Linked DNA regions of Homo sapiens. The protein of the gene in region 7 purifies or fractionates together with the protein of the main gene of each other region. This does not show direct contact. Each region holds a gene or a part of one and is shown on either strand. Other genes may lie near its edges. The genes, in order: TBC1D4, RBM25, PLXDC2, ITM2C, DDX19B, SRR and NRBP1.

Evidence for each region.
Region 1: the proteins of NRBP1 (region 7) and TBC1D4 purify together in Homo sapiens (co-immunoprecipitation; 2 studies listed by BioGRID and IntAct, with this or other methods). This does not show direct contact.
Region 2: the proteins of NRBP1 (region 7) and RBM25 purify together in Homo sapiens (affinity purification with mass spectrometry; one large-scale study listed by BioGRID and IntAct). This does not show direct contact.
Region 3: the proteins of NRBP1 (region 7) and PLXDC2 purify together in Homo sapiens (co-immunoprecipitation; 2 studies listed by BioGRID and IntAct, with this or other methods). This does not show direct contact.
Region 4: the proteins of NRBP1 (region 7) and ITM2C purify together in Homo sapiens (affinity purification with western blotting; one study listed by BioGRID). This does not show direct contact.
Region 5: the proteins of NRBP1 (region 7) and DDX19B purify together in Homo sapiens (affinity purification with mass spectrometry; one large-scale study listed by BioGRID and IntAct). This does not show direct contact.
Region 6: the proteins of NRBP1 (region 7) and SRR purify together in Homo sapiens (co-immunoprecipitation; one large-scale study listed by IntAct). This does not show direct contact.

The regions. Positions count from the first base shown.
Region 1 is NC_000013.11:75,479,370-75,483,553, forward strand, and holds the start of TBC1D4 (TBC1 domain family member 4), read right to left. Parts: upstream 2,801-4,184; 5' UTR 2,399-2,800; coding exon 1,901-2,398; intron 1-1,900.
Region 2 is NC_000014.9:73,064,762-73,068,785, forward strand, and holds part of RBM25 (RNA-binding protein 25), read left to right. Parts: intron 1-210; exon of another isoform or gene 211-332; intron 333-4,024. UniProt on the Homo sapiens protein: RNA-binding protein that acts as a regulator of alternative pre-mRNA splicing. Involved in apoptotic cell death through the regulation of the apoptotic factor BCL2L1 isoform expression.
Region 3 is NC_000010.11:19,819,264-19,823,287, reverse strand, and holds part of PLXDC2 (plexin domain-containing protein 2 isoform 1 precursor), read right to left. Parts: intron 1-4,024. UniProt on the Homo sapiens protein: May play a role in tumor angiogenesis.
Region 4 is NC_000002.12:230,871,297-230,875,320, reverse strand, and holds part of ITM2C (integral membrane protein 2C), read right to left. Parts: intron 1,905-4,024; coding exon 1,764-1,904; intron 1-1,763. UniProt on the Homo sapiens protein: Negative regulator of amyloid-beta peptide production. May inhibit the processing of APP by blocking its access to alpha- and beta-secretase.
Region 5 is NC_000016.10:70,301,774-70,305,797, reverse strand, and holds part of DDX19B (ATP-dependent RNA helicase DDX19B), read right to left. Parts: intron 1-4,024. UniProt on the Homo sapiens protein: ATP-dependent RNA helicase involved in mRNA export from the nucleus.
Region 6 is NC_000017.11:2,313,767-2,317,790, reverse strand, and holds part of SRR (serine racemase), read right to left. Parts: intron 2,235-4,024; 5' UTR 2,231-2,234; coding exon 2,063-2,230; intron 1-2,062. UniProt on the Homo sapiens protein: Catalyzes the synthesis of D-serine from L-serine. D-serine is a key coagonist with glutamate at NMDA receptors. Has dehydratase activity towards both L-serine and D-serine.
Region 7 is NC_000002.12:27,431,434-27,435,457, forward strand, and holds part of NRBP1 (nuclear receptor-binding protein), read left to right. Parts: intron 1-1,815; exon of another isoform or gene 1,816-1,820; 5' UTR 1,821-1,840; coding exon 1,841-2,050; intron 2,051-2,239; coding exon 2,240-2,362; intron 2,363-2,555; coding exon 2,556-2,657; intron 2,658-3,037; coding exon 3,038-3,127; intron 3,128-3,288; coding exon 3,289-3,329; intron 3,330-3,699; coding exon 3,700-3,794; intron 3,795-4,024. UniProt on the Homo sapiens protein: Required for embryonic development. Plays a role in intestinal epithelial cell fate and proliferation, thereby involved in the architectural development of the intestine potentially via the regulation of Wnt-responsive genes.

The DNA.
Region 1 (4,184 bases), on a different chromosome or scaffold from region 7:
CCACTGCTCCCACTGGACTAAAAGGGGGAAGTGAGCCTAAACATATTAATATTTATATAGTTCAGCCTCTAACGCTTAAATATATAATGGAGGAAAATAAAGGAATGTTTATAATTGACTTCCTACCAATGAGACCAAGAGGAACTCAACAGCAGCTGTTGAGAACTAAAGGTGCCAGGACCATCAATGAGATTAGCAACAATGTGTCATGCATCAGATGTCGCTGGGGGGAAATAACTTTAACAGAAACCCCCGAGAGTCATGAAAAGTTCCTTAAAGTCCTGGAAAAATGCAACTGGCTCCTCTTTACCACCAGAACCAGAAAAATGTAATACAATAAAATGTAATAGCTTTCAGAAACTTTCCAATTTTAACATATGTGAAAGCTAAAAATAAGTTTTGAACAAATGTTCACAAAATGAAATTCATTAAATCGTGGTTAGGATCTTGAAATAATTTTAGTACGATATTTTGCCATAAACATAACAGTTATGCCATAAACATAACTTCACATTAGGAGTTCTGATTGTTGGGTGCCTGTAATGCCAGCTACTGGGGAGGCTGAGGCACGAGAATCACTTGAACCCGGAAGGTGGAGGTTGCAGTGAGCCGAGATCGCACCACTGCGCTCCAGCCTGGGCGACAGAGCAAGACTCCGTCTCAAAAAAAAAAAACCTATTTTTCAAAGTAACTGATGAAATCTAAGACAATGAACTATTATTTTCTTCAATTCAACTACAAGCCTTTTGTGAAAACTGTTGAACTAAGTCTTTCAATTACAGACAGAAGAATTGTGAAATAAAAAAAATTAAAGCCATATTTATAGGATGTTTTTCTCATCTGACTACGATTAATTTCCCAGTTACCAAAAGAAAGCCACATGGTGCAACCTGAGACTTTATTTATATTTAGACAACACTATTTTTCCAAAGAACCTAAAGTACTGTGCAAACAGTAAATAACCATTTTTAAAACAGCATTTTGGAAGCTTTTGATATGGCGGGGAGAAAACTCATTACAAATTAAAGGGGGAAAACTCTGTTTTCAAAGACACAATCACTGCATAGTCAAGTTCTCCTCTCCCTGTTCCATAAGGACCATATCTGTTTTTAAGGAAGTAAAGTTTACTGTTTGGTAATTAGATTTAGAAGACTCTGGAAAAAAAATATTAAAAACAAAAGTGAAAAAAACATTTAAAAAATGATATTAGAAACCTGTTCTACTACACTGCCTCCAATAAGTGTGTTTAAAAACCGCAAAAAAAGGGCTTCTTTCCATTCAATATCCAAATGTAGAATCCTTCTTTGCAGACAATCTGACGATGTCTAGTAACTTTTCCCTAAGCCCCGCTCGGAAATTGCCTCCCAGACCGGAGACCTGCAGGTGCTGCTGCGAAGATGACGCGACCAGCCAAACCGGTTAAGGATTTGACTGCGATTGAGAACTAGTGAGGACCTCTAGGAACCCAACCTTCTGCGTTCATACACGCGCTCGCGCGCACACGCACGCACACACACACACACACACACACACACACGGCAAGCAAGCCATCTCCGGTCACACCCCAGACACCGCCGTCCTCCCGGGACGGGCGCTCCTCCACGCGTGCTCCTTGGACGCGCCAGCTCCCCCTCCATCCCGGGACCGTTGTCCTTTTCCCTCCGGGTCCCTGCTGTAGCCGGCCGGCCGCTCCCGCCGCTCGCCCAGCCCCCGAACGCCTTCTCTCCCACTCCCAAGGTCCAGGGAAGGGGCCAGCCGGCGCTTGAGCGCGCCACGTGGAGCGCGCGCGCCTGCAGCCAAACCTCAGTCGGTCCTTAAAGTGGGGTCCCCGCCCCTCCCGCCCTGCTCCCCGATCCCCCAAGGCCGAGCCCGCCCCCGCGCCTCCGAGCCCCTGTCTTGCCTGGCTGGGGTCTGTGGCGCGGAAAACGTGGCAGGCCATCTGCGACTCGGGGTCGTCGGGCTGCGCCTTGATCAGGTAGGCAAAGTAGGTGAGGTCGTGGCTGTTGTGGATGAAGCGCGAGATATGCTGCGCCTTGTGCTCGAAGATGAATACCGCCGGGTTGGGCTGCGTGGCCGACGGACTAGTGCCCCCCGAGGCCCCAGCGCCCGGCGCGGGGACGCAACGCAGGAAGGGCGCGCTGAGCACCAGGATCACCTCTCGGGCCGCCGGCGCCCCGCAGCCGCCCGCCTCGGGCTTCTGGCTGCGCCTGCGGATCTCGGCCATGAGCCAGGGCAGCATAGGCAGCGTGGTCCTGTGGTCCAGGCACGACCCCCCAACGTACCACAGCCGGAACCGCTTATCGCTTGGCTTCCCGGGGCCGGGCTGAGCTGAGACGCCCGGCTCGGGCTCCAGGGGGTGCGGGAACGGCTCATCCTGAATGCAGCTGGGCGGCTCCATAACTCTCGCCTCACCAGGGCACCGCGGAGGCCGGCCGGGCGCACCGCGCCCCCCACTCCCGCGCAGAAGGCGCCGCCGAAACTGTGCCAACTGCCGCACCGGGCTCCCGCGCCTGCCTGGGAGCGGCGCGACCCCGAACTCCGCGCTTCAGCAGCCCTGCCCCATGCAGCACTTCCACGGGCGCGGCTCGGAGGCTCCGGCGGCGGGCACCGAGGCAAGCGCCCGGCAGGCGAGGGCGGGTTAAATGGGCATCCTCCTCCTTGGGCTGGCGCCTCGGGCAGGACCTCCCCTTCCTCCGTCGCGGGTTTGCAGGGTCAGAGGACCACGCCGAGGGTCCCCGCGGCCGCCGGCTCCAGCGCTGCAGCCCCGCTGCGGCCGCCGCGCTCGCCTGGGGCAGACACTGGGTGGCTGGGCGGGGAATGGGGCTGTGGGCGGGAGGGGGTGACTTGGGGCGGAGCTGACTCCTACCAGGGTGACCGGCTGTCACCTGGAAGGTCGGGGCTGCAGGGCTGCGGCGCGGTCAGTCCTCAGGAAAGGCTCCGGCAACTACTCCAGTGGAAAATAACAAAAACAAAACGTGGCCTCGCGGGGGCCGCTCCTCCTCCCGCCGCAGCTGCAGCCCAGCTCGCTGCTCCTCCTCCTGCCGTTCCCGTCCCTCCCTCGCTCCTTCCTTCCTTCCTTCCAGGCTGCTTCTTTAATCGGGCTGCTACTCCGCCTCCCGTCCGGCGGGCGGAGAGCGTCGCCTGCAAAAGCTTATCCGTGAAGCCGCCTCTCCGCCTCTTCGCCTCTTCCTTCGACCCCCGCCCTTGGGGCTGCAGCTCAGAGCCTGGCGCGGGCACTGCCCGGACCCACTTGGCCTCTCTTGAGTCGCCGCGATCTCCGTCTCCTCCCGGGCGTCTCTGCTGCCCCCTAGAGAGGGGGCCACTCGCAGTGGAGAACTGGGATTTTTTTTTAACAGTATTTGCTTGGTTTCAGTTCCTTCTAAAGCCTACACATTAATTTCTGAATTATCTTTCCTAATAATCTCAAAAAACGCTCGTGTTTTCAATCACAATATTATAAATTCCAGTTCCAAATTTCACTTTAAAACATAATATCGACAGCTTGAATCTTCCTAGTTATTAAAGCAGCCAACTTCTTAAAATATGGAAAAGTTATGTTTTATTTATGTTATATCCCCAGTTGAGAGCTAATGTAGAGATTTCTTGTTCTTTTATATATATGTGGTAATACATATTTCCAAAGAACTAAAAAAAAGTTTGGAATAATTTGATCATTGTAATTTTAAGACAGGTAGACAAGTATTCTCCCTTTTTACTCATACCGAATGATAATTAAGAATTGGGTAAGAAGTAAAGACAAAATAAATAAGAAAGACACAGAAGTTCCTGACTTTCTCCTAAGTGCTTACAAGAAGAATGAAAACTCGGGTTTCTTGGTTTTTAGTTTAATGAGTTCTCACTTTTTATAAAGCCCTGGGACCACTTTTTCCCTTCTATTTATTTAAGATCAATATAACCAACTGCCATTGTTCTTATGCTGAATTTCTGGTTGCACTCTGATGGCTCTCTTATTAATAGGTATCTAAGTTCCAAGATGGAGACATTACTAATTGATTAGGTTAAGTCATTTGGTTGAACCACTTAAAAAACCTTTGTTCAAAAAGACCCATGTCTTCAAAGAAGCAATGAAAAGTTCTTGGAAGGTAGACTGAGACCTTCTAGAACCTTCCCAGAAACTCTGTTACACAGATCCCATTTCCTTAGGCTACATATCTGAGACATAA
Region 2 (4,024 bases), on a different chromosome or scaffold from region 7:
AAGTCCAGCCTATCAACAAGCAAGTTTTGGCAGCTCCAAATAAAGGGGAATATGTTATGGAAAAATTTGAAGTGAATGGAATGGGTATATTGGCATAAACGAAAATTAAATATATCTGGTTAACTCTGCAGAATGAATTACACATTTAAAAACCATAAAATATAACTTAAATACCAAGAATATAGAGTTTTACTTTTTTTTTTTTTTTAGACGGAGTCTTACTCTGTCGTTCAGGTTGGAGTGCAGTGGCGCGACCTCGGCTCACTGCAACATCTGCCTCCCAGGTTCAAGCAATTCTCCTGCCTCACCTTCCAGAGTAGCTGGGATTACAGGTGCGCACCACCACACCTGGCTAATTTTGTTTGTTTGTTTGTTTGTTTTCTTTTGAGACAGAGTCTCACTGTGTCACCCAGGCTAGAGTGCAGTGGCGCGATCTCGGCTCACTGCAACCTCGGCCTCCCGAGTTCAAGTGATCTCCTGCCTTTGCCTCTTGAGTAGCTGGGATTACAGGCACCCGCCACCACACCCAGCTAGTTTTTGTATTTTAGTAGAGACGGGGTTTCACCATGTTGGCCGGGCTGGTCTCCAACTCCTGACCTCAAGTGATCGGTCTGCCTCGGCCTCCCAAAGTGCTGGGATTACAGGGGTGAGCCACTGTGCCCAGCTAATTTTTTTTTTTTTTGAAACTGAGTCTTGCTCTGTCGCCAAGGTGGAGTGCAGTGGCGCAGTCTTGGCTCACTGCAACCCCTGCCACCCAGGTTCAAGCAATTCCCCTGCCTCAGCCTCCTGAGTAGCTGGGACTACAGGCGCACACTACCATGCCTGGATAACTTTTTGTATTAGATACGGGGTTTCGCCGTGTTGGCCAGGATGGTCTTGATCTCCTGACCTTGTGATCTGCCTGCCTTGGCCTCCCAAAGTGCTGGGATTACAGGCATGAGCCACCTCACCCAGCCCAGTGTTTATATTTTTAGTGGAGACAGGGGTTTCACCATTTTGGCCAGGCTGGTCTCGAACTCCTGACCTCCAGTGATCTGCCCGCCTTGGCCTCCCAAAGTGCTGGGATTACAGGTGTGAGCCACCGCCCCTGACCGAGAGTTTTAGTTTTTAAGCATTATTTATATCTAATATTATTGGGGGAAAAGTGGTTTTAAAAATGAGTTCATGGCCCAGTCTTGTAACCATTGTGAGGCTAGGCACTGGGCCATTGCTAGAATATAGTATGCGGCATGAGATAGCATAATAAATTTGTTTATTGAAGTCCTCAGAGTTTGTTTACTGATTTATTCATTAATCAGTTTATTCAACAGGTATGAAAACCAACTATCCTAAGAAAGCACTGAGATAGGCTATTATAATGATAATAGAAGAGCTTCTGTAAGTAGGACAGTAGCCCTTTCTGTTTTAAAAAGAGATACCACCCCCAGTTTTTGGTTTTGGTCAAAAAGTTTTACAGAAAGTTTATTTTAAAACTCAACACATTTACAGTCTTGCAATCTTGTGTTTTTCATTGTTAATATGTACTGATAACCTACCTACTGTTTAAAACATTTCTAATACCTCATTTGCCAAGTATATTAAATCCTCCTAAGGGCTGGGCGCAGTGGCTTATACCTGTAATCCCAGCACTTTGGGAGGCCGAGGCCGACGGATCACTTGAGGCCAGGAGTTTGAGACCAGCCTGGCCATACATGGTGAAACCCCGTCTCTACTAAAAATACAAAAATTAGCTGAGCTTGGTCGTGCGTGCCTTGTGGTGTGCACCTGTAATCCTAGCTACTTGGGAGGCTGAGGCAGGAGAATCGCTTGAACCCGACAGGCGGAGGTTTCAGTGAGCTGAGATGGTGCCTCTGCACTCCTGGGTGACAGAGCAAGACTCCATCTCAAAAAAAAAAAAAAAAAAATGCATCCTAGGGATTCCTTTACCTATAAAGTTTTCTAAATATTTTAAGTATACTGTGTTTTCTGAAATTGAAGTTTAGTTTTATTGAATATGGTATTATCCCAATTTAAGTCAAAGGAATTCTGAGGAAGTAGAGCTGTGAGCATGTAGGTCATGCTTTTCTGTTTTAAAGAAATGTCTAGTAAACAGGTAAACGCATACTCAACCTCATTAGTCATGAGGGAAATGTAAATTGAAATAAGAGTATATTTTACTTATGAAATTGTGAGAATTTTGACACTGATCTATTCTACCAATGATGAGGATATGAGGAAAGGGCATACCCATATTCTGGTGGTGGGAATATACATTTATATGCTAGTTTTCAGGGATGATTTTGGAGGTAAAGTTTGGATACATATAATTTTTTTTTTTTTTTTTTTTGATGTGGATTCTTGCTCTGTCGCCCAGGCTGACGTGCAATGGCACCGTCTCGGCTCACTGCAACCTCCGCCTCCCAGGTTCAAGCGATTCTCCTGCCTCAGCCTCCTGAGTAGCTGGGACTACAGGCACCTGCCATCACACCCAGCTAATCAGATACATATAGTTCTAACCTGTATTAGAGAATTACCTGTACAGATGCATACAGTTATATGTCTATTATCTCCAGGAATGTTCAACATTATTTGTGAGAGCTGAAAGTGGAGCCAACTGTTAATGTTGGTTAAATAAATATGTCCGTATTATAATAATTTACTGCATTATTATTATTTTATTATTTTTGAGGCAGTCTTGCTCTGTCACCAGGCTGGAGTGCAGTGGCTTGATCTCGGGTCACTGCAGCCTCCACCTCCCGGGTTCAAGCAATTCTCCTGCCTTAGCCTCCCAAGAGCTGGGACTACAGGCATGTGCCACCACGCCTGGATAATTTTTGTATTTTTTTCATGTTTTATTGCCTGTATTTTTTTTTTTTTTTTTGAAACAGAGTCTCGCTCTGTTGCCCAGGCTGGAGTGCAGTGGCGCGATCTTGGCTCACTGCAAGCTCCGCCTCCCAGGTTCACGCCATTCTCCTGCCTCAGCCTCCCTAGTAGCTGGGACTACAGGCGCCTGCCACCGCACCCAGCTAATTTTTTTTTTTTTTGTATTTTTAGTAGAGACGGGGTTTCACCGTGGTCTCGATGTCCTGACCTCGTGATCCACCCGCTTCGGCCTCCCAAAGTGCTGGGATTACAGGTGTGAGCCACCGCGCCCGGCCTGTATTTTGTTTTTATATGTATCATTAATTCTTAAAAATTAAGATTTTGAATCTCTTTGGATATTTATTAGGCTTCAAAGATCTTGATGGAGCAGTCTGAGTTGACTGCCAGTTTCTTAAGTTGGCGGTAAGGCTGGGGTGCAGCGCACACTGGTTTAGCGTGAGCAGTGATCACTAAGCACATGAGCTACGACCACCCCAACTTTACCTCGTTCACAGACAGAACTGGAAGGTTGGTCCTAGATGGCTGCTTGGTCCTGGATGCTTTAGTGGTCTCTTGATATGTGGAAAGCCTTGTTTTGGAACAAATGTTTCCATTGATACAGATGAGAAATGCCTCTTTAATATTTTTATAAACCATTTAGACCCCAATAGATTTGGTTTGTGGGTCACTCTCTTGTGAGTACCAAAGGATTTCATGGTTGGAAGGTGTGCCTTTTCGTCTTGGCAGTGAGCAGCATTTAATGGAGAGACAATGCTTGTATTTGATTTTTTTTTTTTTTTTTTGGTTCATTTACAGGATCTGAGACTTATTCAGACTACCAGCTGTATTATCAGGAAGGAACAAATCCAAGTTTTGACGTATTGTCAGTGTGCCGCATGTTGTATTTTCAAATTCCTTTAGTGGTTTTAACATTAGATGACCAATTCTTTGGCACTGATGTGCTTTTGCCAGTGTACGGTAGATCTGACCATGGCTCTGAGAAGTCTGGCTGGCATTACCACATCCCAAGCTCTCTGTCCAAAGAGAAGGAAGCGCCAGGGACGCACGCTTCCTTGGCTGGACTGCAGGAAAAGAGCTGCAGCACCAGCCTCTCATTACTGCAGCCACCCCCTCTCCTAATTTTTGTATTTTTAGTAGAGATGGGGTTTCACCATGCTGGCCA
Region 3 (4,024 bases), on a different chromosome or scaffold from region 7:
TTCAGTGAAATGAAACACCACCACCACCATATATGTATGCATATGTACATATATATGTATATCATATTTTAAGATATTAAATTAAAAGCATAAGTAAACATCCCAGCACTTTGGGAGGCTGAGGTGGGTTGATCACGAGGTCAGGAGATCGAGACCATCCTGGCTAACACAGTGAAACCCCGTCTCTACTAAAAAATACAAAAAATTAGCTGGGCGTGGTGGCGGGTGCCTGTAGTCCCAGCTACTTGGGAAGCTGAGGCAGGAGAATGGCGTGAACCTGGGAGGCGGTGCTTGCAGTGAGCTGAGATCGCGCCACTGCACTCCAGACTGGGAGAAACAGCGAGACTCTGTCTCAAAAAAAAAAAGTAAGTAAACATCCAGAAAGAAACTAGCAGTATAGGAAAATAGTGGAATAAACTTTTTGAAAGTCCTATCTATCAACAGAAGGCTTAATGTAAATAACTGATATTAAAATAGGCAAAGTGCCTAAAAAAGACATTTCTCCAAAGAAGACAAAAAAAATGGCCAACAGGCATATGACATGGTCCTCAACATCACTAATCATTAGGGAAATACAAATCAAAATCACAATAAGGTATCATCTCACACCTACTAATATTAAGATGGCTATTGTCAAAAAGACAATAGATAGTAAGTGTGGGTGAGGATGTGGAGAAAAGGCAACCCTTATACACTGTTGGTGGGAATGTAAATTGGTAGAGCCATAAAAAGAACAATATGAAGTTGCTTCAAAAAATCAAAAATAAAACCACCATATGAGCTAGCAACCTCTCTTCTGTATATATACCTGAAGAAAATAAAACCAGAGCCTTTAAGAGGTATCTTCACTCCCATGTTAATTGAAGCATTATTCACAATAGCCAAGATATGACAACAACCTGAGTGTCCATTGATGAATAACTGGATATATATTCCACATACATTGCATATGTAGTGCATATACATTCCATATATAGTGCATATATATTATATATATTGCATATATAGTGCATATATTATATATATTGCATATATAGGGCATTTATATTATATATTGCATATGTAGTGCATATATATTATATATAGTGCATATATACTATATAGTGCATATATAGTGTATATACATTATATATTGCATATATAGTGCATATATATGCACAATGGAATATTATTTAGCTTTAAAAAAGAAGATCTTGCTATTTGTGATAGCATGGATGAATCTGGGGGACATTGTGCTAAGTAAAATAATTCAGACACGGAAATACAAATGCAATTTGCTTTCTCTTATACATAGAATAAGAAAATAAACAAGCATCATGTTGCACAGCTTAAATACATATTATTAAAAATGAAAACAAAGAATTTTTTTTAAAGGAATGTATAAAAGAAAAAAGATATGAGATTAAGAACATGAGTGAACATTCACTCAGAAACCAGCAGGATAGAAGAATGGTCGAATGAATTTTTTGAAAGTCCCACCTAATAGTAGAAGGATAGTTTAGCAGACTTCTGGATCTTATGCTTTGGTTTCAACAGTTACTCTCCAAAGTTCGTTTTAAATTTATTTCTATCCTAGGGATGGACAAAGTCTTAGCATGGGAATTATTTAAAAAGTCTCCCAACGTGGCATTCAAATTAATAATTCAGCTTGAACTATAGTTCTAGTCAGTTCAGTTCAGTCCAACAACCATTTATTGCAACTATTTATTGGTTGTTGCCACAGCAGATTCAGAAATAAATGACAACAGACCCTGACCTCAGGAATGTATGGTCTAGTCTAATAGAATACATGAGAGAGAGGTAGAAATGGAAAGAAAAGGAAACCCTACAATATCAAGCAAGTGCCTTTGAAGAAGGCATAAAGTGCACTGAGAATTCTAAGACAACACGTCCTTTTGTGGAGAGTGTCACTTGAGATAAATCTGCAGGAAAAATTGGAAAATGGATGGATGGAGACGCACTTAGAGAAGGAAGAGCAGGAGGAATGGCAGAAGTGGTAATGCATGGTACACACTCAGGGAACTTCAGCAGCTCATCTGGTGAGAGCTTTCAAGAACAGGCAGGGGAGAGAGGGTGGGAAAGTGCTTGAGGCCACAGGCAATGGCCTTGAAGACCATGGAGAAGAGACTGTATTAATGTGAGGAGAAAGTAGCTGAAGACTTCATTTATTTATTTGTTTGTTTACTTATTTTTATTTTTATTTTGAGGCAGGGTCTCCCTTTGTCGCCCATCCAGGCTGGAGTGCAATGGTGCAATCTCGGCTCGCTGCTATCTCCGCCTCCTGGGTTCAAGTGATTCTCCTGCCTCATCCTCCCAAGTATAGCCAGGATTATAGGGGTCTACCACCACACACGGCTAATTTTTGTATTTTTAGTAGAGGCGGGGTTTCACCATGCTGGCCAGGCTGGTCTGGAACTCCTCACCTCAGGTGATCCGCCCACCTCGGCCTCCCAAAGTGCTGGGATTACAGGCATGAGCTGCCGTGCCCAGCCTGCAGCTGAAGACTTTAGATCCCATGATCAAGGCTGTTGATCAACTCATTCCTCTTTAAAAACATAATGTTTCTGCAATAGGAGATAGCTTTTAGGAAAAAATGACAAAACTAATTGATAAGGACACATATTTTCTTTTCTTTTTTTTTTTTTTTGAGACGGAGTCTCGCTCTGTCGCCCAGGCCGGACTGCGGACTGCAGTGGCGCAATCTCGGCTCACTGCAAGCTCCGCTTCCCGGGTTCCCGCCATTCTCCTGCCTCAGCCTCCCGAGTAGCTGGGACTACAGGCGCCCGCCACCGCGCCCGGCTAATTTTTTTTTGTATTTTTAGTAGAGACGGGGTCTCACCTTGTTAGCCAGGATGGTCTCGATCTCCTGACCTCATGATCCACCCGCCTCGGCCTCCCAAAGTGCTGGGATTACAGGCGTGAGCCACCGCGCCCGGCCGGACACATATTTTCTACATACTCTGTGAGTATCTGATGCTTACAGTGAAGAAACCTGTCTGGAGCAAAATTATTATCTTTCATTATTAAGTTTTATTCAAATACATTCTCCCTGACAAGAGTTTATTTCTGAAGATCACACTGAAATGTGCAAATTCTCCTGATTATAATAATTCCAAACCTCTAGGCAGACATCCATGAACAACAACAACAAAAATTACCTTTGATATAAATGTTCTACACTACAATTATGTCTCAGTCCAAACTTACCCAACCTCAAGCTCCAAAACTTGTATCTGTTCTCTAAAGGAAAAAGAAACTCATATTTCATATTTTTAAAATTTTGCAGGTAGCCTCAAGTCATTGATTGATAAAATAATCAACCTGTCTTTTGTCCAACAATATGACAGATGTCCATTTTACAATAAATGTTCACTTGAATTAACCCCTCTATTATATCACTGTGCTCTAGGTTTATATGTAAACAGAAACTTTAGTGATTATGTCTCAACAGCAACACTCTCATAACAAACTCTACAAATGAGTAATATTTCAAAGTAAATTGTTTAACTCCAACAAAAGCAGGAAATAACAGAAAAATATTCAACCAGAGAAGAACAACTAAAATAAGTGTAAATTATATGATAAACATAAACTACTTCCCTCTAAAACAGAAAAGGGAATAATAGAGGAAATTAGCAGTTTATCTGCCCTCTGGTGGCAATGAAATCAACTGCAGCATTTACTAAAGTAACGCATAATAAAATGTCCCTGTTATGAAATCAGATGTTGTTCCTGTGCCAACATGTCTGTAATAAAGATCCTGATTGTTGCATGACAAACGTCAAGACTGCTGGACTTTTCCCCCCATACTGAATTTTTATATAGACTATTTTACAAATAAAGTTGTATACTTTTTTCTGTTTCACCTTGCTTTTTTTATATATTCAGTAAGCTAACCATTTAATTACAATATTTTTTTCATAAAACTACATGTAAATGATGTCCAGGAAAGAAGCTACTTCTGTTTATAAAAGTCTTCGAAAATTTGGCAAGGAATTTAAAACCATTCTTTTAAAAATCAATC
Region 4 (4,024 bases), about 200 Mb from region 7:
CTCAGTTTCCCCATCAGTAAAGCATGATGATCCCTAAGGTCCCTTCTGGCCTCCAAGTCCTTGAGTCGGTGACTGGGAAAAGGGGTGGCCCAGCAGGACTAGGACCTGGCCACCTCCGTGCCCTCCACAGAGGTGCAGACACCAGAGAAAGAGCCTGGGGTTGGCAGGGGGTCAAGGACGAACCTAAGAGTTGGGCACCTACGCCTGTGCACGACTGCCTTTCCTGTCACCTGCTGTCCTGGCCTGCAGACCTGGAGGGGCCTAACACGGCGGGTGGGGAGGTGGAGCTGGAGGCAACACTGTTAAGAGTCTTGTGCCCCTATCACGGTTACCTCCACATCCAGCCTCGGACAAGTGCCATCGCCCTTCCTGGATATCCCTGACCCCTGTCTTGGAGAAACCTTGACAGACACTGTGTCTGGTGGGCCAGTCCAGTCACTCCATCAGTAAGGGAGGCCAGGCAGCCTGGTGTGATCCCATCAACTGAATGGCCGGGCGGGCCAGTCTGCCCACTCTTACTTCTGGAGGGGGCTCCTGGAGGGGCCTGTAGATACATGCTTGGGACTGCCTGGCCTGGGATCGGCAGGATTCCACCGTCTGTTTGATTCAGTGCAAGTTCTCCAGGGAGGATGCGTCATCGCAGCATGGGGGGCTCCTGTGGGCTGTGCGGGGATGAGAGCCCAGGGAAGGTGAGGCTCCGGGGCTGCATCCCACAGTGGCTGGACACCCCGAATACTGTCCCAGGGCACAGACCCAGGGGCTGCTGGGAGGTGTCCACACAACGAATTGGGGTGTGGGGAGAAGGGTGTGAGTCGAGGGTGGAACAGAGGGGACCAGGAAATGCTGGCCCAGGTCCTAGGGTAGGGCCACAACAGGAAGAGGCCTGTGGGAAGGTCCCACACAGGACCCTGGAACGAGGGGGACGCAGGCCATGGAGGGAGTGGGGCGGGGCAGGGGGATGCTGCACAGAAAGGAAGGTGATGGGTGTATGTGAGCTGAGCTTTCAAGGGGAAAGCCCCGTGAATGCAAACTCTTCAGCAATTTCCATCGTGGAAAAACTGGGGGACAACAAAGTTAAACGCTTAGGAGTGGGAGGTCACTTGGGTCATAAATGACTGGCAAGTCCCACCTCTTTGTCACCCTGAGGTTCTCTGTGAGTTGTACGTAGGTTTATCCTTTTAATTTACCTACTTTCATTTCCAAGCACACAGCGACACTCCCTCCCTCCCAGGTCTGGGTTGGCCCAGCTTTGTGCCCAGGTCCCCCGGGGAGGGGGATGATAGTTGGCAGCAAGGACACACTCCTGCTTCTGGAAGGAGGTGGTGGAGACTCTCTGTACCCACCCCTCTCCCTCTCTTGTTTGGTAACCCAAATGTCCATGCACAAGCACAGTTAGGTCAGCCTTAAAGCGTGACCTGCAGGTGCAGGGTCTGAGCTGTGGAGGGGGATCACAGTTCCAGTTTCTGCCAGATCTGAGTTTCTGGTGAGAATTCCCCAGGGTGACCCTGTGGGGCGGGCCCAGTGCTGTCACCCGGATTCATGCTTGGCTCCCCAGGACAAGGGGCTAAATGTGGGACTGGCCTGCATCCAAGGAGGCCCCAAGGAGGAGGGGGCACCCCAGTCTTGTGGGCTGGCCGGGCACTCGCTCCCACCTGAGGGCATGTCTGGGGCTTCCTGCTGCCCCCTTGCAGACACTTCCCTCCATGCCTCTCTAGACATGACCCTTTCTCGAGGCCTTGCCCCTACCTGGCCCGGCCCCTCACCTGCGCAAGGAAGAAGTATCTGTAGATGTAGACAGAGGCGAACACGAGGCCCATGAGCAGCACGACCATGCCCATCGACAGGTAGCACACGCCGCCCACTGAGCCCCCCCTCTTGGATCGATGTTGTGGGGGCTGCTCCTCCTGTGGATAGCAATGCTGGGTCAGTGGGGGCCAGGGCCCCTCCCCTGGAAATCCCCCCTTCCCTAAGTCAGGCTTCACCTGCTGGCTGGGCCCGGAGGGAGTCTTGGGGGAAAGGGAGGGAAGGAGATGACACCTAGAAGGGAAAGGAAGGCCCACCAGGGTCACCCGGACTCGTCCTGGCTAAAGAGAAACCGAGACAAACCTCGAAAGAGAAAAGGAGACACACCTCGAAAGAGAAACCAAGACACACCTGGAAGCCACCGAAAGAGATGCAGTGGGTTCAGCAGGTGCATTTTGAGTTATCTGAGCTCTTAGGCCTCTTGCTTATACCAGCCGTGACCGTGGTATATTCTTTCAAACAGAAGATAGGGGATGTGCCGACCTGGCCTCGGTGACTTTAGGGACTTAGAAATCTCTGTAGGAATTGAGACACACCAGGCAGGCTGGGAGCTGCTGCTCTGGACGATGGGGAGCCCGGGAAGGCTTTTGAGCTGGGGAGTGACAAGATCCACTCTAAAACCAAGGTGCAGAGGGTAGACTAAAATGAGGACAATAGGAGGTGGGCAGGCTGTGTAAAGGCTGCTCAACTCCACCAAGGAGGCTGTGACTGATGGGGGCAGGGGCTCCAGGAGCCCCATGGGGTCTGGGCATGGGTGCTTGTCCCCAGCCAGGGAGCTCTAGGCCTGTGATCCACACTGGCCCCCCACAGGCACCGACCGGCAGTCAAGCAGGCTGTTACAAGTGGTGTAACAGCTACAGGATGAAGCCCGGAAGCTTCCATCCACCAGGGAGCTCCTGCCAGGAGAGAAATGTGGCTGTCCGGAAGGCCAGGCTAGAAGGATCCTGGAAAAATCTGCTCTGGGAGCCAGAATTGGGCTCAAGATCATAGCTGCAGGGCTGCCAAGAAGCCAACCTAACCCATCTCCAGGCCACACATGTGTGGGGTGGTGGACGTAGGTGTGTGAGTATAAAATTCAACAAAACTGCTTTACCCAGAGCACTGACGAGAGCCAGCCAGGTGAGCTTGGTCAATTTCCTGTCTCTTCTCCTCCCTACCTCCTATGCCTTCCCCCGGGCCCTTGCTCACCCTTGGAGATAATGCAAAAGCCCCGGGGCCAGTCTCTGCCTCCAATGTTCACCATTTAATCCTTCCTCCGTGGTGTCCACATACGGCCAAGAGTGAGGTTAGAGGTCAGTCCCTGCGGACTGCCGCAGTATTGGGGAGAGGAGGGGATCCAGCCCCAGAGCCTGAAGCTTCTCATTCTGGCTCTGCCACTACCTGCCTGCTTAGCACTTTCTGGGCCTCGGCTTCCCCATCTGCAAAATGAGCAGGTCAGACCAAGTGACCTCTCAGGCCCTTTCCGGCCAGGCGTTCTGGGATGGGAACAGATTTCCTTTCTCCCTTCCCCCTGGAGGGGGGTGGTTCAGGCCTAAGTGACTCAGGACAGGCCCTATCTCTCAGCACAGCACAGGGGTCCTGCCCTGGGGGCGCCTGCTTCGCTCCTCAGGTTTCACCTCCCACCCTTTTAGAGCACAGGGGAGTGTGGGGCCTGGGCCCTGGGGAGCTGAGGGTCTGACCCGCCCTGCTTAGGAAAAGGACAGAAAATGTCTGGAGGACCCCCCCTTCACTGCGGACATGCGTGAGCAGGTCAGCAGGCCCCCAGCATCCTCACCATGGGGTGCCCCTGCCTGTCCTGCACCCTCACACTCAAGTCTGCCCGCAAGGGAGCCTGCTGGGTGGGTGTGGGAGGTCAAACCACTGCCCGCACTGCCTGGCCCATGAGGAGGCCGGGGCCTCTCCCCACCTTGCCCTGCTTTAGGGGTCCCGTGATCATATGGACCACCTGCCCACTGTCATCTCCTCAGCAGCCAGGGGCACTAACCAAGGTCACCAGCAAGTGACGGGCATGGCCACAGTGCACAGGGCCCTCAGGAACAGCTGCTGGCCACAGGGGGTTGGGACTAAATGGCTTTGGTTTTCCAATGGACTCCCGGGAGCAGCAAGAGACGGGGGTGACACCTTCCGTTGGCATCTCCCAGGGATCGAACCACCCAGGAGCTCTTGCAAACCAGGCACCAGGGATGCCCTCCTGCCCCTCTGGCGCTCCTGAGCAGGTCTT
Region 5 (4,024 bases), on a different chromosome or scaffold from region 7:
CAGAGTGAGACTCTGTCTCAAAAAATAAATACATAAAAATTTAAAAAATAATAATTAAAAAAACAAAAAACCTCTCAGAACTACTTGAAACACATATTTATCTCTACGTTGACTAATGATGTGTTTTTTTTCTAAGTGTATATTGTGCCTTGAGATATTGGCTAATAAAAATATGAAGCCAGCACACACAAGCACAGGAAAGCATTATTTCATTTTTATCTCAGCCTTTATTACTTTTTTATTTGCTTTACAATGTACATAATATATTTAATAAAACAGTAAAGTATGCAATTTCTAAATAGATATTTACATATTGAGAGTGAATGATCAAAAGTTTCTTTGCAACAAATAACAAACTACACAGTTCATTTACTCAGTTAACAATGCCTGCCAGGTTAGGCATGAGAAATGCTCAAATGGATAAGGACCACAGTTAAGGGAGGGGATGCCATAATGAAAACAGAAGCATTAAGTGGAAGCAGGTATTCTGGGTCCTGAGACCTCCCTCACCCTTTCCTCCACCTAGATTCCAGAACACTGAGTCAGACCTCCACCATCTAGGCAGGAGTTTAGAGGATCCCTCTCTGCAAAATCTGGCCAGACCGGGAGGAAAGTTCTCAGGATGCTGACATAGACCACTAAAGATATATAGTTAAGGTCAGAATAGACAAGCCCCACTCATGTGTTTACAGCTTCCACTCAACTTTTTAGTCACTCACTCTTAAATATGAGTGGCCAAGCAAGGATTACAGACATCTGAGAAACAGTCATCACAAAAAAGTAGACACTGAAATATATGGATAAAACACGCCTCACATGAAACAGAGACTGAGCAGAGAGAAGAAGAAAAATATCCTCCAAATGATGAGGATATTATGACCATGAAAGCCGTACAGGGTATTGTCTGTAAAAAAGGAACAGTAAAGGAAGAAGAAAAAAGTTCCTGAAATTAAAAATAAGAAAGTAGAAGTGAAAATGAAATATACCAGACAGTACTTGAGAAAATCTCCCAGGAAATATAGAAAGAAAGAAAGAAAAAAAAAAGAGACAAAGATGAAAAACAGAAGAAAAAAGAAAACCAAAGGACTTTTAAACGAATGGTGCTGGAACAATTAAGACAGCTCTGGCCAGGAGTGGTGGTTCACGCCTGTAATCCCAGCACTTTGGGAGGCCAAGGCGGATGGATCACCTGAGGTCAGGGGTTTGAGACCAGCCTGGCCAACATGGTGAAACCCTGTCTCTACTAAAAATACCAAAAGTAGCCAGGCTTGGTGGCAGGCGCCTGTAATCCCAGCTACTCGGGGGACTAAGGCAGGAGAATCGCTTGAACCTGGGAGGTGGAGGTTGCAGTGAGCTGAGATCACGCCACTGCACTCCAACCTGGGGGACAAGAGCAAGACTTTGTCTCAAAAAAAAAAAAAAAAAGACATCTCTGTGAAAAAGATGAACAGATGAACCTCGGCCAGGCACGGTGGCTCACGCCTGTAATCAAGCACTTTGGGAGGCCGAGGCGGGCAGATCATGAGGTCAGCAGTTTGAGACCAGCCTGGCCAATATGGTGAAACCCTGTCTCTACTAAAAATACAAAAATTAGCTGGGCATAGTGGTGGGTGCCTGTAATCCCAGCTACTAGGGAAGCTGAGGCAGGAGAATTGCTTGAACCCCGGAGGCGAGGGGTTGCAGTGAGCTGAGATTGCGCCACTGCACTCCAGCCTGGGAGACAGAGCCAGACTCCGCCTCAAAAAAAAAAAGATGAACCTCAATGCATACCCCTTATTAGAAAAAATTTAACTCAAAATGGAAAATGGATTACAGACATAAATGTAAAATTTAAAACTATAAGACTTCTAGAGAACACAGGAGAAAATCTTTGTGGCCTTGGATAAGGTGTATATCTTGGAACACAAAAAGAACTAATCATCTAAAAATTGATAAATTAGGCCGGGCGCGGTGGCTCACGCCTGTAATCCCAGCACTTTGGGAGGCCGAGGTGGGCGGATCCCAAGATCGGGAGGTCGAGACCATCCTGGCTAACATGGTGAAACCCCATCTCTACTAAAAATACAAAAAAAAATTAGCCTGGCGTGGTGGTGGGCGCCTGTAGTCCCAGCTACTCGGGAGGCTGAGGCAGGAGAATGGCGTGAGCCTGAGAGGTGGAGCTTGCAGTGAGCCGAGATGGCACCACTGCACTCCAGCCCAGGCGACAGAGCAAGCCTCCGTCTCAAAAACAAACAAACAAACAAAAATTGATAAATTAGGTTAATCAAAGTTGAAAATGTCTATTATTTGAAAAGTACTGTTGAAAAAAGACAAGTTGTAGTTTGAGAGAATATATGCAAAACATATCCGATAAAGGACTTATCATGCCTGTAATCCATCTCAGCACTCTGGGAGGCCCAGGTGGGCGGATTGCTTGAACCCAGGTGTTCCAAGACCAGCCTGGGCAACATGGCAAAACCCTGTCTCTACAAAAAATACATACATTAGCCAGATGTGGTGGCGCATGCCTGTGGTCCCAGCTACTCTGGAGACAGGGTGGGAGAATCCCTTGAGCCCAGGAGGTGGAGGTTTCAGTGAGCCAAGATCATGCCACTGCACTCTAGCCTGACTCTAGTCTGGGTGACAGAGTGAGACCCTGTCTCAAAAAAAACAAAAACAAAAACAAAAAACAGAACTTCTATCCAGAATATATAAAGAAACTTCCCAACTAAAAACAAAAACAATCCTACTTTAAAAATGGGCAAAAGGTTTGAAAAGCCACTTCAAAGAAGTTACATACATGGCAAATAAGCACATGAAAAGATTGTCAACATCATTAGTCATTAGGGAGATATATAAGTTAAAACCACAATGAGACACCAGCATGTACCTATTAGAATGAAGGAAACTGACAATACTGTGCAGGGAAGGGTGTGGGGCAGTTGAAGCTCTCATCCATTGCTGTTGGAAAAGCAGAATGATACACTTTGGAAAATAGTTTGGCACATAACTTACAAAGTTAAACACATACGACATAACACAGTAAATCCTACTCTTTGATATTGACTTTACCCAAGAGAAATGCAAACATATGTCCATACAAAAATCTGTACCTTAATGTATAGAGTAGCTTTCTTCATATTGTCTCAGACTGAAAATTACTCAAGTGTCCATCAATAGAAGAATAAGCAAACTGTGTATATATATCCACAGTGGAATTCTACTCAGCAATAAAAAGGAATGAACTACTGATACATGCAACTTGGTTGAATTCTAAATGCATAATACTAAGTGGAAGAAGCCAGACTTTTCAAAAGGTTATATATTATATATATGATTCCATTTTATGACATGTTGGAAAAGGCAAAACTATAATGACAGAAAACATATCAGCAGCTGCCAGAGAAGGGTGAGGAGAGGGAGTGAACTACAAGAAGTTGTAGTTCTTTGTAGAGAGGGTTTATGTGTTGCCTGTGGTGGTAGTTACACAACTGTATGCTTTTGTCAAAATTCATAGAACTGTACACTAACAAAGTTTAATTTTACTCTGTGTAAATTATACCTCCATAAACCTGACTTTTAAAAAAATTAAAGGGCTGGCCAGGTGTGGTGGCTCACGCCTGTAATTCTAGGACTTTGGGAGGCTGAGGCATGCGGATCACTTGAGGTCAGGAGTTCAAGACCAGCCTGGCCAACATGGTGAAACCCCACCTCTACTAAAAATACAAAAAGTAGCCAGGCATGGTGGCACATGCCTGTAATCCCAGCTACTCGGGAGGCTGAGGCAGGAGAATCGCTTGAACTCAAGAAGCAGAGGTTGCAGTGAGCCAAGATCGTGCCATTGCACTCCAGCCTGGCGGACAAGAGCGAAACTTCATTTCAAAAAAAAAAAAAAAATTAAAGGGCCAGTCCAACAGATCCAACATTCATCTAATAAGAGTTCTGGGAAAAGCTATGCAGTGGTGCGCACCTGTAGTCCCAGCTACGAGGGAGGCTGAGGCAGGAGGATCACTTGAGCCCAGGAGTTCAAGGTTGTAGTACACTA
Region 6 (4,024 bases), on a different chromosome or scaffold from region 7:
TCCTTAACATGCACATCCAATCTGTCACCAAATCTTATCGATTTACCTCTTAAATATCTCATGTGCATCTTTATTTTTTATTTTTTTGAGATGGAGTCTCCGTTATCCCGGCTGGAGTGCAGTGCCACGATCTCGGCTTACTGCAACGTCCGCCTCCCCACACTGCGTCTACCCCCAGGGCCGGGTTCAAGTGATTTTCCTGCCTCAGCCTCCCAAGTAGCTGGGATTATAGGCACCTGCCACCATGCCCGGCTAAATTTTTTTTTTTTATTTTTTTAGACCTAGTCTCGCTCTGTTGTAGCCCGGGCTGCAGTGCAGTGGCGCGATCTCGGCTCACTGCAAGCTCCGCCTCCCGGGTTCACGCCATTCTCCTGCCTCAGCTTCTCGAGTAGCCGGGTCTGCAGGCGCCCGCCACCACGCCCGGCTAATTTTTTTGTATTTTTAGTAGCGACGGGGTTTCCCCGTGTTAGCCAGGATGGTCTCGATCTTTTGACCTCGTTATCCGCCTGCCTCAGCCTCCCAAAGTGCTGGGATTACAGGCGTGAGCCACCGCACCCGGCCTTTTTTTTTTTTTTTTTTTTTTCCCCCGAGATGGAGTCTTCCTCTATCACCCATGGTGGAGTGCAATGGCGTGATCTCAACTCACTGCAACCTCTGCCTTCTGGGTTCAAGCAATTCTCCTGCCTCAGCCTCCCAAGCAGCTGGGATTACAGGTGCCTGGCACCAAGTCCCGCTCATTTTGTATTTTTAGTAGAAAGTGTTTCACCAAGGCTGGGTGCGGTGACTCATGCCAGTAATCCCAGCACTTTGGGAGGCAGAGGCGGGCGGATCACAAGGTCAGATCAAGAACATCCTGGCTAACACGGTGAAACCCTGTCTCTACTAAAAATTCAAAAAAAAAAAAAAAAAAATTAGCTGGGCGTGGTGGCAGGCGCCTGTAGTCCCAGGTAATCGGGTGGCTGAGGCAGGAGAATGGCGTGAACCTGGGAGGTGGAGCTTACAGTGAGCCGAGATCGTGCCACTGCACTCCAGCCTGGGGGACAGAGTGAGACTCCGTCTCAAAACAAAACAAAACAAAACAAAAAAGCGTTTCATCATGTTGGTCAGGCTGGTGTCGAACTCCTGACCTCAGGTGATCCACCTGCCTCAGCCTCCCAAAGTGCTGGGATTACAAGTGTGAACCACTGCGCCTGTCATATATTTGTATTTTTTGTAGACAGAGTTTTGCCGTGTGGCCCAGGCTTAGATCTTTTATATTGATAATGTATCCATGTGTAGCAAGTTGATACAGTGAATGCTTAAACTTGGGTCATATACAGAGTGATAACACTTTCCAATTTGCCTGCAACAGTTCAGGTGTCTGTTTAGATATTTCAGGTTGCTTCTTTCAGTCCCAAACATGTCCTAGTTTGGATAATAAATTATGTCTTAGTTTGGACAGTAAGTGATGGTATATATAATAAAGTCATGCTTTGCTTAAGGATGGGGATATGTTTCGAGAAATGCATGATTTGGCAATTTCATCATCTTGCATGCACCATAGAGTGTACTTATACAAATCCAGCTGTTACAGCCTATTACTCCTAGGCTGCAAACCCTGTATAGCATGTTACTGTACTGAATACTGTAGGCAGCTATAACACAATGAGAAGTATTTCTGTATCTAAACACAGAAATCGTACAGTAAATGTGTGGTATAACCTTATGGGACCAAGGACCACCATCATATAGGTGGTCTGTCATTGACTGAAACGTTATGTGGCATATGACTGTATTTTATGTATATATTATATATATGCACATACATATATATAAAAATTACTCGGATAAGTTATATATATTATCCTAATTATAAGGATTTATGACTGTGTAAAAGTTGCTTATCAACACTATGATGCTAGGTAAAACAAGGACTTGAAAGGAAAATTTCTGTAACCTTTTTTCCAGCTGTATAAAGGCATTAATTTACTTCTGCCTATCTCATTGGGTGGTCAGGAGAATCAAACTGATATGTGAAAGGGTGTGAAAACATACATGATACACTGAGAAAAAGGATTGTTACCTTAAAAGATCCTGTTTTCTGGAAGAGTTCACATTTGAAGAAAAGATTGCGCCCTGTTAGTTGATTCAAAATGGAGCTTGTTAGCACTGGTGTGAGGTGGATAGAATCTCGAATGTTGATATGAGCTTTTTCAACATCAGCAAAGGAGATGCAATACTGAGCACACATGGTTCTGAAACCCAGGAATAAGAAAGGGGTCAAAGCAAAGTCTGAGACAGTATGTTTATTGAAGAGATTTTGAAAATACGTAACAGAATAGACCTGGGGCCTGTGGTGTCATGTGGAAATTCTCCATTATTGGAGTGTCAGAATTTCCCTAAAAGAGAGTTGACTTAAAAGCTGAACGAAGTTTTTCTGGTGAAGCTTTGAGGGAAGTAACTGATGGTGATTACAGAAGGCTAAAGCCCACTCCCCACCCACACCACCCATCTCTTGGCACTGTTGGCACTGCCACTGGTCTCCATCTTCCTTTTTTTTTTTTTTTTTTTGAGACGGAGTCTCGCTCTGTAGCCCAGGCTGGAGTGCAGTGGCACAATCTCGGCTCACTGCAACCTCCGCCTCCCGGGTCAAGCAATTCTCCTGCCTCAGCCTCCCGAGTAGCTGGGATTACAGGAATGTGCCATCGTGCCCAGCTAATTTTTATATTTTTAGTAGACACGGGGTTTCACCATGTTGTCCAGGCTGGTCTTGAACTTCTGACCTCGTGATCCGCCTGCCTCGGCCTCCCAAAGTGCTGGGATTACAGGTGTAAGCCACCGTGCCCAGCTCCACCTTTCTTTTAATCATCGTTGTGAAGCTACTTGAATGAATTGGATTCAATTTTTATATTATTTTTAATTTATAAATTTAAATTTTTAATTTTTAATAAAAATTTAACAAATTATTTGATAAAGAAAAAATAGCTAGACTATTCCATTTAAATAACTATGTTCATTTTCTTTATTTCCCTCTGCATTTTCTTTTTTTTTGTTTTTTGAGATGGTGTTTCACTCCTGTTGTCCCGGCTGGAGTGCACTGGTGCAGTCCTGGCTCACCACAACCTCCACATCCCAGGTTCAAGCGATTCTCCTGCTTCAGCCTCCCGAGTAGCTGAGATTACAGGCATGCACCACCATGCCCAGCTAATTTTTTTTTTTTTTTTTTTTTGAGACAGAGTCTCGCTCTGTCACCCAGGCTGGAGTGCAGTGGCGCGATCTCGGCTCACTGCAAGCTCCGCCTCCCGGGTTCACGCCATTCTCCTGCCTCAGCCTCCCTGGTAGCTGGGACTACAGGCACCTGCCACCATGCCTGGCTAATTTTTTGTATTTTTAGTAAAGACGGGGTTTCACCGTGTTAGCCAGGATAGTCTCAATCTCCTGACCTCGTGATCCGCCTGCCTCGGCCTCCCAAAGTGCTGGGATTACAGGCGTGAGCCACCAAACCCGGCCAATTTTGTATTTTTAATAGAGACGGGGTTTCTCCATGTTGTGCAGGCTGGTCTCGAACTCCCGACCTCAGGTGATCCGCCTGCCTCAGACTCCCAAAGTGCTGGGATTATAGGCGTGAGTCACTGCGCCCGGCTCCTTCTGCATTCTCAATATACATTATGTAACAGTTAAAGCAAACATTTTATTTGCTCCTACATTTGACTCAGTTTCTTTACAATTTTCATAATTTTCAATAACTACATTAAGCTTCCACTTTCCACTGTGTCTATTGTAGCAGTTAAATATGAAGTTTCTCTATTTTTCCTTATTACAAAAGAATCTATATTCATTAGAAAACTGAGTTAATCTGAAAATACAGAGATACAAAAAGAACATGAAAATAGCCACGAAACCTTCCTACCTAAAGACAGTTGCTATCCAGTGGTTTACCTTTCCAGGCCCAACTACATATGCAGACAAAACTCTTTGGTAGGTTTGGTAACTTCTTTTTTTGTCAGACAGTATTATGAATATCAATGAATCTCATAGGTGAGTA
Region 7 (4,024 bases):
TGAATGTGGGCATTTATTTTGTTTGTTATTGTATCTCAAGGACTTAGCCCAGTGCTTGGCCCACAATAAATGCTTAATAAAACATCTGTTAAATGAGTGAATGAAAAAAAAAATGTTGTTAACCAATACCCATTTGTCACACTCACATCACAGGAAAGGTGAGGTCATCAGGGATGAAGTCACTAACAACTGCCAGTCATGTGCCCCAAGGGTAGCCTCACCATGGACTAGTGGGCTTGTTCTGTGTAGAGAAGGGATGGATAGTGAATGCCAAGGTTAGTTCTAGCTGGATAAATTAGCCAAGGGTTTCAGCTGGATAAGTTGGCTGAGGGTGCTACAGGTCTAGCCTTAAGGCTGTCTCACTGAAACATTTTGGAGTCTGGAGTCATCTGTTCTGAATAGCGCCCACATAGTTTATATTTTTTTATTTTTTGAGACAGAGTCTCACTCTGTTGCCCAAGCTGGAGTGCAGTGGCACGATCTCAGCTCACTGCAACCTCTGCCTCCCGGGTTCAAGTGATTCTCCTGCCTCAGCCTCCTGAGTAGCTGGGACTACAGGTGCGTGCCACCACACCCAGCTAATTTTTTTATTTTTAGTAGAGACAGGGTTTTGCCATGTTGGTCAGGCTGGTCTCGAACTCCTGACCTCAGGTAATCCACCTACCTCGGCCTCCCAAAGTGTTGGGATTAAAGGCGTGAGCCACTGTGCCCGTCCACACATAGCTTAATTCTTGAGCACAGTAAAAATAGGGTGTACTTGGGGATTCAAAGGGAAGCCTATTGGATGAGTATTTGCCAAGAAGGAATGGAGCACCTGATTTTGCTGGTGATTTGAACCTTACTCTAAGTGGGATTAGACTGCCATAAATCTTGTGTTTGTCATTCCTGGGAGGGTCATCTTCAACTAAGATAGCTCCCCTTTTCTAGACTAGAGTTAGGAGAATAGTTAATGTTTCAGTATTTAGGACTGATTCTGATTTTGGATTTAAAGGAAACAAAGGTGGTGTGTGTTTTCTATTTTTAATTTTTAAAAGTTTTGTGTAGAGACTGGGGTCTTTTTATGTTGTCCAGGCTGGTCTCAAATGCCTGGCCTGTTTTATTTTCTTTTGAATTTGCAGATAAGTATTAGGATTATTAAATCTTTTTTTTTGTTTGTTTGTTTTTTGTTGAGACAGGGTCTCCCTCTGTTGCCTAGCCAATGGCATGATCATAGCTCACTGCAGCCTCAAACTCCTGGGCAATCAAGTGATTCTCCCATCAGCCTCTCGGGTAGCTGGGACTATAGCTGTGTACCACCTTGCCCTGCTAATTTTTAAATTTTTTTGTAAAGATGGGGTCTCACTTTGTTGCCCAGGCTGGTCTCAAACACCTGGCCTCAAATGAACCTCTTGCCTCGGCTTCTCAAAGTGCTGGGATTACAGAGGTGAGCCACTGTGCTCAGCTGGATTACTAAATTTTTTTTTGAGATGGGGTCTTGCTCTGTCACCCAGGCTGGAGTGCAGTGGCGTGATCTCAGCTCACTGCAACCTCCACCTCCCTGGTTCAAAAAAATTCTCCTGCCTTAGTCTCCTGAGTAGCTAGGACTACAGGCACGCGTCACCACACCCAGCTAATTTTGTATTTTTAGTAGAGATGGGGTTTCACCATGTTGATCAGGCTGGTCTTGAACTCCTGACCTCAGGTGATCTGCCCACCTCAGCCTCCCAAAGTGCTGGGATTACAGGCATGAGCCACCACGTCCAGCCTGGATTACTAAATCTTTACAGATGTATCCTGACTTTCTCTGCCTTTTCCCTCTGTATTTGCCCCAACCAGTGCAGGCCTGAGTGTTCCTTCCAGCATGTCGGAGGGGGAGTCCCAGACAGTACTTAGCAGTGGCTCAGACCCAAAGGTAGAATCCTCATCTTCAGCTCCTGGCCTGACATCAGTGTCACCTCCTGTGACCTCCACAACCTCAGCTGCTTCCCCAGAGGAAGAAGAAGAAAGTGAAGATGAGTCTGAGATTTTGGAAGAGTCGCCCTGTGGGCGCTGGCAGAAGAGGCGAGAAGAGGTAAGGTTATGGTACAGTTACTCTTGGGTGAGTGAATTCTGGAAAGGTGAGAACTGGAAGAGCAAAGTCTTAAAAGAGGCCAACCAAACTTCAATAGGTTGGGGGCTAGGAGGAGATGATCATATGGAGTGTTAAAATGGAGGATTTGTGAGATAAGTTTAATTCTCTTTCATATGAATTTCTTCTCAGGTGAATCAACGGAATGTACCAGGTATTGACAGTGCATACCTGGCCATGGATACAGAGGAAGGTGTAGAGGTTGTGTGGAATGAGGTACAGTTCTCTGAACGCAAGAACTACAAGCTGCAGGAGGTAGGTGATGCTGAAAAGGTGAAGCCTGGGGAATGTTGGAACACTGATGTTAGAGAGGAATTGGTGTTGGGAAGCTGCCCGTGAGGAGAGTATGTTGGGGTTAGATCGTTTCTGGGGAGGGATAGGGAATGGCTTCTCAGGATTATTACAGTGATTTGTGACTCTGTTATTCCACTGTCTCCCTTGCTTTCAGGAAAAGGTTCGTGCTGTGTTTGATAATCTGATTCAATTGGAGCATCTTAACATTGTTAAGTTTCACAAATATTGGGCTGACATTAAAGAGAACAAGGCCAGGGTAAGAATTTTTTCCCCATATTTCCTGAACTTATTGCAAAGAGACTAGCTACATTTATTATTGTTCCTTTTACACTCAGAGATTAAAACAAGGTAGTTTTGAAACAGAACTGGAATCAGCTGCAATGGCGATAAGAGTAGGGCTTCAGTTGTCACCTATGCCTTTTGTGTGGCTATAGATTGGGCAGAAAATGAGTGAACTTTTGCTTCTTTCTTCCCATAACTTTCATTGCTTGTTTTCATTGCCCTATTTAGTCTAAGTAAGTAAAGCTAAGAACAAAAGGAGAGAAATTTTAACAAACCTTCAAATTTAAAATATGTTAACAAGGGAAGGGATCATTTCTACTATAAGGCCTTTTAGTAAGTGCTTTGCCTCCCCAGGTCATTTTTATCACAGAATACATGTCATCTGGGAGTCTGAAGCAATTTCTGAAGAAGACCAAAAAGAACCACAAGACGATGAATGAAAAGGTATAGAAGGAGAGCAGACAAAGTTTGAGGCTGGTTTTTGGGGGTGGTTTTAAAAAGGACTCTGTTAATAATGAAGCTGATCAGGAAGGGACGGAAGGAGCTAGTGGGAGAGAGTTAAGAGAGGGAATTACTGCTGACCCTTGGATCCAACTTTGTTCCAGGCATGGAAGCGTTGGTGCACACAAATCCTCTCTGCCCTAAGGTAAGTAGTACCTGGTTAGTTTCTTACCCATATTTCCTGATGTAGTTACTCCAAACAGATTTCAGGGCACTACTCTTCTGTTCTATTCTGCCTCTCCCCACTTTCTTTGAATCATATACTGTCAAGATTAGGGCCCCTACGGGTCTTTTAAAGGGTGCGTCCTAATGCCCTAACCACGACACTTATCTCCTACCTCTTTCTCCTAGTGCTTATCCAGCTATTTAAATCATCAGGCATAATGGAGATTCAGAGTGTGGGGATTATCTTTATGGTGACCAGCAGGAGACCTGGCCCTTGCTCCTCTTAACCCTTGGGTTCCCCCTGCCCTTAATTTCCCAGTGGCCCCTCTAACAGCCCAGTGCCCCCACAGCTACCTGCACTCCTGTGACCCCCCCATCATCCATGGGAACCTGACCTGTGACACCATCTTCATCCAGCACAACGGACTCATCAAGATTGGCTCTGGTGAGGGGAGGGAGAGGTTCTGGGCAGGGGAGCCTCGGGAATTTGGGAACCATGGGGGTAAGATGAAAGGAATGGGGGATAACAGAGCAAAATTCTGAGGTGTGGGCTGGTGAGAAGAGAAAGGACCTTGCTAGGAGTAATTAATAGGAGAGGCCAGTTAATTAGTGGAGAGGGGGTAGGATATATAATCTTACACCTTTTTGAAGGGAAAATTGGGGTTAATACAGAGA